2 linked regions of the Homo sapiens genome follow. The protein of the gene in region 2 interacts with the protein of the main gene of each other region in a biochemical or structural test. Each region holds a gene or a part of one and is shown on either strand. Other genes may lie near its edges.

The links.
Region 1: of the proteins of UCK1 (region 2) and USP28, one has a biochemical effect on the other in vitro, tested with the Homo sapiens proteins (one study listed by BioGRID).

The regions. Positions count from the first base shown.
Region 1 is NC_000011.10:113,797,375-113,802,979, reverse strand, and holds the end of USP28 (ubiquitin carboxyl-terminal hydrolase 28), read left to right. Parts: intron 1-1,301; coding exon 1,302-1,497; intron 1,498-3,564; coding exon 3,565-3,740; 3' UTR 3,741-5,105; downstream 5,106-5,605. UniProt on the Homo sapiens protein: Deubiquitinase involved in DNA damage response checkpoint and MYC proto-oncogene stability. Involved in DNA damage induced apoptosis by specifically deubiquitinating proteins of the DNA damage pathway such as CLSPN.
Region 2 is NC_000009.12:131,522,518-131,529,298, reverse strand, and holds the end of UCK1 (uridine-cytidine kinase 1), read left to right. Parts: intron 1-28; coding exon 29-171; intron 172-260; coding exon 261-355; intron 356-2,795; exon of another isoform or gene 2,796-2,854; intron 2,855-3,321; coding exon 3,322-3,370; intron 3,371-4,077; coding exon 4,078-4,259; 3' UTR 4,260-5,498; downstream 5,499-6,781. Other genes in the region: POMT1 (protein O-mannosyl-transferase 1), read right to left, coding at 6,193-6,367. UniProt on the Homo sapiens protein: Phosphorylates uridine and cytidine to uridine monophosphate and cytidine monophosphate. Does not phosphorylate deoxyribonucleosides or purine ribonucleosides. Can use ATP or GTP as a phosphate donor.

The DNA of each region.
Region 1 (5,605 bases), on a different chromosome or scaffold from region 2:
TCATTCTTCTTCAATGATAACTGATAGAAGTTAAGATGAGAATCAGTCATCCCTCTGTGTGCCCTTCATGTATGCCTGCATTATAGATTTTATCACATTGCTTTCCTACTAGGTTGTAAATTCCTTGAGCTCAGATCCTTTTCTCACTCAGCCATTTCCTCTGTGCCTGTCATGTAGGAACCATGTAATAAATGTGTGTGGAAGGAATGCAGCATTTTTTCCATGTTCACATTTAAGCTGGTAGACTTAAAGTTTTAGTGACTTCTGACACTCCATTTTTTTAAAATAAAGGTAGGAACTGTAAGAATTGGTCCTGCTGTTCTGATAACATCATTGTCACATACTAGTGAAGACTAACTCTCTCCTGGCCTGATTTGCACTGTATAACTACATGGAAAGGCAGACCTACATCCCCTTGCCTCCCCAGGGGTTTATGTGATGTGTGTCCTTTGGAGAACTGTAAAGGGGTGGCCTGCCTTCAGAGTGTGGGCTTGTGTGTGTTTTCACCAATACCCAGCAAATTTGCCCTTCACAGAAGTCAGGCCAATATTTCTACCACTGCCTTTACCTTGTTCATACCGAATGGGTGAGATTAAGTCATGACATATACTCAATAGCTTTATTTTCTGATTTATACTTTGACATCTGTATTAGTTATAGGTGTGGCAGGGCCACTTTGAAGCTGAAAAGGGATCTTGTTGGTTTGATGGATCTGAATTTTATTAGAGCCATGTTTTTATATTTTAAATCACCAAATAGATTGACATTTTGAATATCCTACTCAGCTTCTGAAGTAATGCAATTATAGGGATTTAGACTCTTTCCATTATTGAGTCCCAACCCCTAGTGTGCATCAGAATCATATAGGGAGCTTTCAGACAGTCGTGAAGCTCAGGCCTCTCCCTAGCAATTAAACCAGAATCCCTGGGAAGGGCCCTGGGCATCAGTGTGTCTTCTGCAGGTGATTCTGATGCTCAGAGGAGATAGACAACCAGTGAACAGGTCTTTGGTTGAAACAGGTGTTAAGCATGACCTTGACTTACAAGTTTAGGCCAATGGGTCATAAACTTTACAGCATTAGAATCACTTTGGGAGCTTTCATAAAATCCCAGTGTCCCGGTCATCTAAACACTAATTAAATCAGCTTATCAGAAGTGGGAACCAGGCATCAGTAGTTTTTAAAGATCCCTAAGTACATCCAATGTGCAGTAAAGTTTGGGAACCACTTGTTTAGACTGTTATTAAAGAGATATTTATCTTTTTCAGACTCTTCCCCACCTAATTCTACCTTTTATCTGTAGGAGCTGAATGCCAAAGCAGCTTCTCTTTTTGAAACAAATGATGATCACTCCGTAACTGAGGGCATTAATGTGATGAATGAACTGATCATCCCCTGCATTCACCTTATCATTAATAATGACATTTCCAAGGATGATCTGGATGCCATTGAGGTCATGAGAAACCATTGGTGCTCTTACCTTGGGCAAGATATTGCAGGTATATGCTCTTGGTAATAATATTCTGAGGTTTTGAGAATTGTAGAAATTTCAGTGTTCTCACTTGATAGCACTGGTTGCCAAACCTTTTTAAGGAATTGGAACCTTCTAGCATATAAGTAAATTAAAAATGGATCTGCTCTATTGAAACAAGAGGAGGGAGCCTGGGCCTCTGCCCCTCTTAACCTCCCTTTAGCTTCCCCATGACTGCCAAATCACCTCCATGGGCAACCAACAAGCCTGGTTTGAAAAAAGTCACTGCTCTCCAGGAATGTCAGACTTCCATTACTCTCTCATGTGCCAAAAGATGAACTCTTTTATAGTTTAAAAATCAAAATCTGACTGGGTGCAGTGGCTCACACCTGTAATCCCAGCACTTTCAGAGGCCGAGGTGGGCAGATCACCTGAGGCCAGGAGTTCAAGACCAAGTCTGGCCAACAAGGCGAAACCCCATCTCTACTAAAAATACAAAAATTAGCTAGGTGTGGTCATGGGCGCCTGTAATCCCAGCTACTCGGGAGGCTGAGGCAGGAGAATCACTTGAACCTGGGCAGCGGAGTTTGCAATGAGCCGAGATAGCACCAGTGCAATCCAGCCTGGGCCACGGAATGAGACTCCATATCCAAAAAAAAAAAAAAAAAATCATGCAGAGTATGGTTATGGGAGGGGTGCCTTGATGAATTTTTTCTGTGGCTTGAAGTTATATAGCATATTAACTATGATGACTTCAAGATTAATTAGTGGACTGTCCTTGCTTGTTTAAAGCATCTTAAGGAGGGAATGTAAAGCTGGTTGTTTTTAGGTGAGTTCAGTAGACTTGGAAAATTGTTATATATTCTGATATGAATCCTCTTTGTTAGGTTCTCACTGACATAGAGATACTCTATTGATGGGGCTAGGCACAGTGGCTGACACTTGTAGTCCCAGCACTTTGGGAGGCCAAGGTGGGTGGCTCACTTGAGCCCAGGAGTTTGAGACCAGCCTGGGCAACATAGTGAGACCCTGCCTCTACAAAAAATGAAAACTTAGCTGGGTATAGTGTAGTTCTAGCTACTCAGGAGCCTGAGGTGAGAGGATTGCTTGAGTCTGGGAGGCCGAGGCTACAGTGACCCAAGATCATACCACTGCACTCCAGCTTGGAGTGAGACCCTATCTTTAAAAAACAAACAAAACAAAAAAGGCCGGGCGCAGTGGCTCACGCCTGTAGTCCCAGCGCTTTGGGAGGCTGAGGTGGGCGGATCACGAGGTCAGGAGATGGAGACCATCCTGGCTCACATGGTGAAACCCCGTCTCTACTAAAAATACAAAAAATTAGCCGGGTGTGGTGGCGGGCACCTGTAGTCCCAGCTACTTGGGAGGCTGAGGCAGGAGAATGGCGTGAACCCGGGAGGCGGAGCTTGCAGTGAGCAAAGATGGCGCCACTGCACTCCAGCCTGGGCGACAGAGTGAGACTCCGTCTCAAAAAAAAAAAAAGATATTCCATTGACTTGTTCAAGTGTTTAAGTTGATAGTATTTATTTAAAAATCCTGTAATAGCTAGTTGCCATGTGTTTCCCTTTACTGTCTTCAGTTTTTATTTAGACCAAGCTTGTCCAACCTGAAGCCCAACACAAATTTCTAAACTTTCTTAAAACATTATGAATTTTTTTTTAACCTCATCAGCTATTGTTAGTGAGGTTCATGTGTGGCCCAGGGAAGCCAAAAGACTGTACACCCCTGATTTAAAACCATGTGTATACACTGATATATTGTAAACATTTGAAAGAAAATAATTACCATCATATCTATGCTAGAGTATCATATCTACTTCCTTGTATTTTAAGAAGACAATTGGTTAGAAGACCCTTTCGTAATAAAGTAATTATATAGTTGTTATATAGCAGTGAGCTAAAGTTTGGTTTATTTGCCTTTGCTCCTGGTTTGGCCTGAAGGAATAATCATTTATTAGTAACTGGCCAGCATAATGCTTTGACCTTTGAGGTTAGGTAAGGGGCTAATAGAAGGCTTGTTCACTTTTACTCAGAAATCTGTTTAGCTGTATATGTAACCATCTGTTTTCCCTCCACAGAAAATCTGCAGCTGTGCCTAGGGGAGTTTCTACCCAGACTTCTAGATCCTTCTGCAGAAATCATCGTCTTGAAAGAGCCTCCAACTATTCGACCCAATTCTCCCTATGACCTATGTAGCCGATTTGCAGCTGTCATGGAGTCAATTCAGGGAGTTTCAACTGTGACAGTGAAATAAGCTCCCACATGTTCAAGGCCCATTCTGGTTCCTGGCTGCCTGCCTCTTGCACAGAAGTTCGTTGTCATAGTGCTCACCTTGGGAAAAGGATTAGGTGGGCACATAAGATTCCGATCAGACCCCAACCATGCTGCATGTGTAAAGAAGGATTGAAAATAAAATTGCACTTTTTAGGTACAAAATCATAAAAGCTGTTTCACTAGAAAAGGCAGAAAGCAGTGTATTAAGGTGTTGAATTACGCCAGAAGACCTGAAATGCCTTGTACCTACAACAATGCTTAGGCTTTTCTAAGCCTCTTGCCACTTTTAAAATTATCCTTCAGGCATAAATATTTTTGACAGCAGAATAGAAGAATGATTCATGAGAACCTGAACCAGATGAACAGCTACTAGTTATTTTATCAAATACAGATGACATTTAAAAATTCTTAACTACAAGAGATTAGAAATATAAACCTTGCCTGGCTCTTGCCAGGAGATAACAAAATGGGTTGCTGATGAACTGCACCCTTTTACATGTGGGTAGAATATAAGCTCACATGGCAGTGAGATGTTGAAAAGTCAAAAGAGACCTGTCTCTCTCCTTTCTTTTCTATCTTTAAACCAGAAAACCTCATACTCAGTCCTCAGTGAAAGAAAGTAAAGTATTAAGGACTTTAGACAGAAGAGCATTGTGTAACTTGACTGAAGATCATCCATTAATAGTTATTAGGCATTTAGGTAAAATTTTCTAATACCTAAAAATTGTCAAAAACAGTCAATAGGGCTACTGCTGGCCCAAAGACCATTTAGGTCCACCTCCTCTTTTTTGCTCTTTTTTTTTTTCTGTGACAGTTTCACTGTGTCGCCCAGGCTGGCGTTCAGTGGTGCAATCTCAGCTCACTGCAAACTCTGTCTCCTGGGCTCAAGTGATTCTCGTGCCTCAGCCTCCCGAATAGCTGGAATTACGGGCATGCACCACCACACCTGGCTAATTTTTGTATTTTTAATAGAGATGGGGTTTCACCATATTGGCCAGGCTGATCTCTAACTCCTGGCCTCAAGTGATCTATCTGCCTCCCTCAGCCTCCCAAAGTCTGGGATTGCAGACAAGTCATCGTACCCGGCCTTCTTTTTTGCCCTTAAAAGTAAGGGATGTGGGTTTGTACAAAAAAAAAAAAAAAAAAAAAAAAACCAGCATACATATGCAAAACTATATATATATGTATATGTAGAGAAAAATACTTCCCATTGATCATTTTTAAAAGGCTTCTGATTGGATATTGTGTTTTAACCAAATTTTAAAGATTAATGGAATCATGAAAGGGAAAAAAATTGATACAACTATGCAGATTTTATAAATGTGCAATAAAAGTATTTGTTTTACCTTTGGTGTGCAGTATGGTCTTTATTTAAATATATATTTTCCATTTGGGAAATGGACATACTTGGTATTTGTCTTGTTCCAATTTTTCTTCTTTAAAACCAAAAAGCAGATTAGAGGGTTGATAAACTGGATGGGGACTGACGCGCCAGTGTTTGAAATAAAAGGCAACAGTCAATTATTGAGCAGCACCTAGTGGTAACTGAAGCTTTTTAATCTCATTGGCTATTTGCATTGCATGTAAGCTTATCTACTTTGTCAAATTTTTGAATGCAAAAACAGCAATTTTCTTAGAATGGAGTTTCTTATGTAGTCATTCCTCAGCAGACACCGGCAATTGCTGGGACCCCTGCATATACCAAAATCCATGCATACTCAAATTCTGTAGTTGGCTTTGCAGAACCCACATATAGGAAAAGTTGACCCTCCATACACTTGGGTTTTCACATGCTGTGAATACTCTATTTTCAATCTGCATTTGGTTGAAAAAAATCCTCATGGG
Region 2 (6,781 bases):
AGAGCCCCTTTCCCCGTGCGCCCCTCAGGTTACCAGAGACCACGGTGGTCTACCCTGCGGACGTGGTTCTGTTTGAGGGCATCTTGGTGTTCTACAGCCAGGAGATCCGGGACATGTTCCACCTGCGCCTCTTCGTGGACACCGACTCCGACGTCAGGCTGTCTCGAAGAGGTAAGGCGGCCGCGGGCCTCCGTGCCTGCCTGGCCGAGGCTGGCGGCAGGTCCTGAGGTCTGAAGCACGCCTGCCCCTTGCCGCTGCAGTTCTCCGGGACGTGCGCCGAGGGAGGGACCTGGAGCAGATTCTGACGCAGTACACCACCTTCGTGAAGCCGGCCTTCGAGGAGTTCTGCCTGCCGGTACCTGTGCTCGCTGCTTCAGAGCCCATTTTCCCCTTTCACAAGGACACATGGGACCCAGTACTGTGAGAGGGCTTAGTGCTGGGTGACAGTGATCTGATTGAAAAAAAGGAGAAGAATTTGGCTCATTATGGCCACATACCCTGGGAGTAGTTCTCAGCTGTAAAAACATTCTCTGTGCCTGCTCCTCCCTCTGCCTAAAAAAGCCCCATATCTCCCCCACATTCACACTGGCCGCTTCCTCCCTGCCTCAGGCCCTTGCCCAGCGTCCCCATTCAACACTGAAAACCCTCTGCACCCAGCGCCAGCCTCTCTGCCTGCTTCCTTTTTCCGGGGCACTTACCATCATCTGACACGTCCTGGGTGCTTATTCCCCGCAGAGTGGGGAAGCCCAGGAGCACTTTAGTCTGTTCACTGCCAAGGCCGGGATCTGGCCCTCAGAAGGTGCTTCAGAGCTGCTCCTCCAGGGTCTGTGACCCCAGGCTGCTCTGGGCCAGTGCTCTGAAATCTTGGAGTGAGCGCTGTGCCCAGATCCCAGCTGGCTCGCAGAGAGCAGGAACTCCCCGCTGCACACCCACCTGTCTTTTCTCCATTTCTCCATCTTGTGTTTCTGGCTTGGTGGGACTCGTGGCTCTACTCAAATGGGAGTGTTTTGCACGGGAACATTTTGCCTGTTAAGGTAAAAATACAGCACAAAGGAACTGAAACCAAGATTCCTGCCTTTGATAATGTAGGACAAGTAAGTTCTATCTGCTGCTTTTTTTTTTTTTGAGATAGGGTCTCTTTTTGTCGTCTAGGGTGGAGTGCAATGGCACGATCTCGGCTCACTCCAAACTCCACCTCCCAAGTTTAAGCAATTCTCCTGTCTCACCCTTCCGAGTAGCTGGGATTACAGGCGTACGCCACCACACCCAGCTAATTTTTGTATTTTTAGTGGAGATGGGGTTTTGCCATGTTGGCTGGGCTGGTCTCGAACTCCTGGACTCAAGTGACCCACCCACTTTGGCCTCCCAAAATGCTGGGATTGAGCCACTGTGCCTGGCCTTTTTTTAAATTTTATTTTTAATGAGGCAGAGTCTTGCTCTGTTGCCCAGGCTGGAGTACAGTGGTGCAATCACAGCTCACTGCAGTCTTGACCTCCTAAGCTCAAGCGATCCTTCCACCTCAGCAACCCGAGTAGCTGGGCCCACAGGCGTGCACCACCATGCTCGGTTAATTTTTAAATTTTTTGTAGAGATGGGGTCTCCCTGTGTTGCCCAGGCTGGTCTCCATCTCCTGGGATCTAGTGGTCCTCCCACCTCAGCTTCCCAAAGTGCTGAGATTACAGGTGTGAGCCACTATGCCTGGCCTATTGGCTGCTATATAAAGAAAACTTTTGTTTTTTTTTGCATTCATGCTGTCTGAAATTTCTAAAATATAATTTTAAAAGTAAAGTTAACTTGTTTTAGTCTCTCATTCACAGAAAGATATTTGGCAAAAAGTAGGTGATTCGCAGTAAAACTCTGGATATCAAATCTGCCTCAGCGACCTGAGTAGAGGAAGTGCTGTCACCTGCTATGTTCTGGGCCCAGGCCCCAGAGATGTTTTTGGTTGGTTTGTTTGCTTGCTTGTTTTTTGAGACAGGGTCTCCCTCTGCCACCCAGGCCCAAGTGCAGTGGTGAGATCTTGCTTCACTGCAGCCTCCACCTTCCACTCTCAAGTGATCCTCCCACCTCAGGCTCCTGAGTAGCCAGAGACTACAGGCACGCACCACCACGCCTGGCTAATTTTTCCTTTTTTTTTTTTTTTTGCACAGACGGGGTTTTGCCATGTTGGCTGGGCTGGTCTCAAACTCCTGGCCTCAAGCAGTCCACCCACCTCAGCCTCCCAAAGTGCTGGGATCACCGGCGTGAGCCACCGCACCCGGCCCCAGCCCCACCCAGAGCCGTTCTTGAGCCTCCTTTTCCTTCACCTTCATGTTGAGTGGCTTGTGCAGTCCTCTGCCTGGACCCCGTAGGTATTTCCCAACTGTATTCAGGCCCATCCCTGCTGGCGGTTAAGACCCCTGTCAGCTCTCCCGGACTCCTCCAGCCCGTCAGACTATCAGACTAGAATAGAAAGCAGCCCTCGCCCTTGCGCTCGTGCTTTCATGAGATGGGGTCCCACCAACTGCAGACACAGCTGTCCCCAGGACTTGGTCCCTGTCTGCCTCTTGCAGCTTGTCTCTTCTGCCGCCTTCTTGACCCAAATCCACACGCCAGCAGCACGCACCGTTCCAAGTTCCGTCCTTCGGCCCAGACCCTGCCCTCCCTCTTCCCTCAGCTTTGTCTGATTCAGCCATGTTCTCCAGGCTGCTTCCCCTTCCCTAAAGCCACCCCCCAACCCCCACCATCTGGCTGCGGACCCTCCCCAGCAGCCCTGCATTTCCTGATATATCTCCATCCTTGTCCTTCCTCAGCAGCAGAGCATCTGACAGGGAATGAGAGTCAGCATTGAGCCAATGAGTGGTTGGATGAGGGAGTAAGTTACCATCAGCGTCTCTGCCTGCAGTAATTATGCACGGCGGCGGCTGTCCTGTTGCTGTGCCAGGGTATTTGCAGAAGCTTCATGATTCCAGAGGAACAATGTCACACTTTGTAGAAGTGCCACACTTAGCTTGGCCCAGTGAATTGAGTCGTTAGCGTAGCCAGCTGTCTCCTGTAATGGAGTGGGAACACTGGAAGGGGGCTGTCTTCTGTGATGGAATGGGGACACTGGAAGAGGCACTTTCTTTTGGCTGCCTCAGCTGCACTTTCTGCCTCACTTCTTGGATCATGGCCTCTCACACCTGGCTGATGACTGAGTCTGTGTCCCCCATTTGCCGATGACACCAGCACCTCTGAGCACCCCAGGGCCGCCCCTCCTGCTGTTGCATCTGTTTCTGAGCATCTTAAAATCACCTTTGAAGGAAAAGTCCTCACAGGAACACCCCCCCTTGTGCCTTACAGACAAAGAAGTATGCCGATGTGATCATCCCGCGAGGAGTGGACAATATGGGTAAGAAGCTGGCCTGCTGGGCTGTCCCCCCGCCCCTCCCAGAGCTTGAGGCAGGGACAGTTCCACCAGTGTGCAGTTACTGAGCACTCCCCTGCGCACGCGGCCTGCCAGTGTTGATCTGCGGCACAGGGTTAAAATATGCTTAAAAATGTATGTAGCTGGGCGCGGTGCCTCACACTGGTAATCCCAGCACTTTGGGAGGCTGAGGCAGGGGGATCACTGGAGCCCAGGAGTTCAACAGCCTGGGGAACATAGCAAAACCCCATCTCTACAAAAAATAAAATTATTTGGGCATGGTGGCATGTGCCTCTGGTCCCAGCTACTCAGGAGGCTGAGGTGGGAGGATTGCTTGAGCCTGGGAGGTTGAGGCTGCAGTGAGCTGTGATTGGGCCACTGCACTCCAGCCTAGGCAGTAAAGTAAGAACCTGTTTCTTAAAACATATATATATGTATATTCAAATCTGTTAGCAGAAAGTACTTTAAGCAGACTCTAACATAAATTCCTGGAAGACCAAGCTAAGAAGTCTTATTTTGCTGTGTCCTGATGCATGTTTCTGTCTGCTGAGATTTGACTCGATGCCCCTCGCCGCAGGCTGTGCCTCAGGGCAGAGGTTGGGCGCTCACTCCTGGCCGAGTGCTGCGGGGAGGGGCGGTCTCCACGGAGGATGGATGCGGCTAACCCGCTGCTTGTCTGTCTCTTGGCGCAGTTGCCATCAACCTGATCGTGCAGCACATCCAGGACATTCTGAATGGTGACATCTGCAAATGGCACCGAGGAGGGTCCAATGGGCGGAGCTACAAGCGGACCTTTTCTGAGCCAGGGGACCACCCTGGGATGCTGACCTCTGGCAAACGGTCACATTTGGAGTCCAGCAGCAGACCCCACTGAGGGGCTGCCGAGCCTCAGGGCAGGTCTCCCGCCCGGCATGTGTGTTCAGGGACTGAGCCTGGGGACGCCCACCCACACCCACTGCTTCCTCTCGGCGCACCCCAGGGGAGTGTTAGCAGCGAGGCCTTCCTCACTCAGGAGTGGAAACTCAGATGTGTCACTCAGACTCAACTTGCTGGGACACTGACAGGCGTTCCTGAGGTTTTCAGCCACTTAGGCTCGTTGCGGTTTAAAGATCCCTCTAGGTCACTGAGAAATGCCACAGAATGTGCAGGAAGCCTGGGAGGCTTCTGTGAGGAATGTGAGGCACATTATTGGGGAAATTGAGGAGACAGCCTAGACACTGGCTGGCCTGATGTTTTGTTGACAGTGAACCCACAGTGGGAGAGAGTTTTTTCCAGTCTGATCTGGTTCTTACACACTCACACACATAACTCAAAAGTTTTGTGAACAAGTACTTTCCTTTTTTACATGTTACATGTCCTCATGTTTTCTGTTTTCTGTTTCATAACACAAGGCTGGTTGTGGCCTACAAACCTAATTTCATGACCCAGTGGTTTGCAGTCCAGCGTGGCCTACACGGATATGGGGAGCCACTGAGGGATGTTTTCCCCCCTTGCTTGTGCCTTAAAGGCAGAGAAGCGAGGCGGATGCCCTGGAAGCACCCAGCATCACACCCAGGCTTGTGCGGGGCCAGGCTGGGAGCCCATGCAGTAGGGCAGAAGGCAGCGGAGGCCAGGTCTGTCCCGGCTGGAGAACAGCGTCCACGCAGTCCTGCCTGGGGTCAGGCCCTCACTGACCCTCAGGGGAGCCCCCAAGGTGCTGTCTGTCTAGACAGGCTGTCCCACCCCAGGGTGGCTAGTGGCCATATGCAGGGAATGGTGCTTCTGGCTGTGGCACGCACTGGATCACCCAGGTCCCAGCAGACATGGCCGCCCAAAGTCAGCAAGCCTCCTTTGTGCTATGTGGAGCTCACAGCCTCACATGTGAACACCCGTGTCTGGGTTGCCTGGGGTGATCCTCCCTCCTGCGTGGTGGCTGTCTCTGGAAAGCATCCCTTGCCGCTGCCATGGGCAGCCCCAGCCCCCGTCCGTCCAGGCTCACCCACAGTAGTGATGCAGACGTGACGTGGGGGAAGGGGGCTGAGCCCTGTGGCTGGGTTCTGACAACTGTAACGGTTTTGTCGAGCTTAGGCCCCTTTGGAGGGAGAATCAATAAATAACAAACACCAACTACAAACGCCAGTTGGTTCCTTTTTTAATTACATTTAAAAAAGACAAAGGCATGGAGCTGTATGGATGACACACCTTGACCACTGACGAGGAAGATTTCACTCAGCCACGTCTCAGTGGAGTCTCAGAGGGGAGGGTTTCCACACAGCACGGTGCCAAGGGCCAGTCTTGACGCTGTCATAGACAATGACATGCAAGCCCCAGCCCTGGCTCGTGGTTCAGGTGGCCCTCCAACACTGAGCTGTCCCAGGACGCCTGCCGGGCTCGCTGAGGGCAGGGCCGGGACTTGCTCAGGTTGCTGGGTGTTCATGAAGGAGGATCGGGTCTGCCAGATCAAACTCCACCCTGCAGCAGTTAGCAAGGACCAGGCCCTGGTCTGCTGAGGCTCCACTGCTGGCCCTGGGTTCTCGGCTTTTTGTTGTCAATGACTCCTACGCTGGCCTCTGAAATACTCCCTGTGTCTTAGTTCAGGGGTAAAGACACGGAATATCTTTATTGTCGAGAAAAAATTAACTTTGCACAAAAGGAGGTGCTCATCAGAGAGCTTTTCAATGAGACCCCCATGTGTTCCACTAGAGGCCCTGCTCAGCCCAGCCCGTGTCCTCCCAGCGTGGGGCCCACCCTGCTCATTACGTACATTGACCAAGACCCTTCAACCTCATCCCGACCCCAGCACGGGTGTTCTTTGCCACACTCTTGTTCTAGTGTTTTCGGATCAAGATGTCCCAGCTGTCTTTCCAGCGAAGGGCCTTGAGTTCATGTGGCGAGAGTGACTTGTCCCCGTAGGTGAGTGGGCGCAGCGTGTTGGACACGTGGCACGCGGAGGAGTACCAGGCCACCACCAGGGCGCTGAAGATGCTCCTCTGGAGCTGGGACCTGCAGAGGTCAGAGCAGCGTGGGGGAGGGTGGCTGACCACTGCGGCTTCCCTGCCCGGCACCCTCTTGGCATCTGCTGTCCACACGGTCACCCCCCGAGGCCTGGGGTTCTGCCTTCAGGTTTCTGTGTCTTGTCTCCTGCCACCCATGACCATCTCCCACCTGGATGCACTGAGAGGGGCCCCCTGATGACTCCTCAGGCCTCCACAGTGGCTGGGCCACCTCCACACAGATGCCAGAGGACTGGTCCCAAACCCACGGTCCTCCCTTGTGTGGCTTCCTGAAACCGGGAGGCCCTCGCCCTCTGCTCCAACCTCCAAACACACTCTGGTTTAGAAGCTTTCTTGGGTTCTCTCCACCACACCACACAACCCGACCATAACCAGCTGCCGTTTCTGACACCCCAGGCTCCTG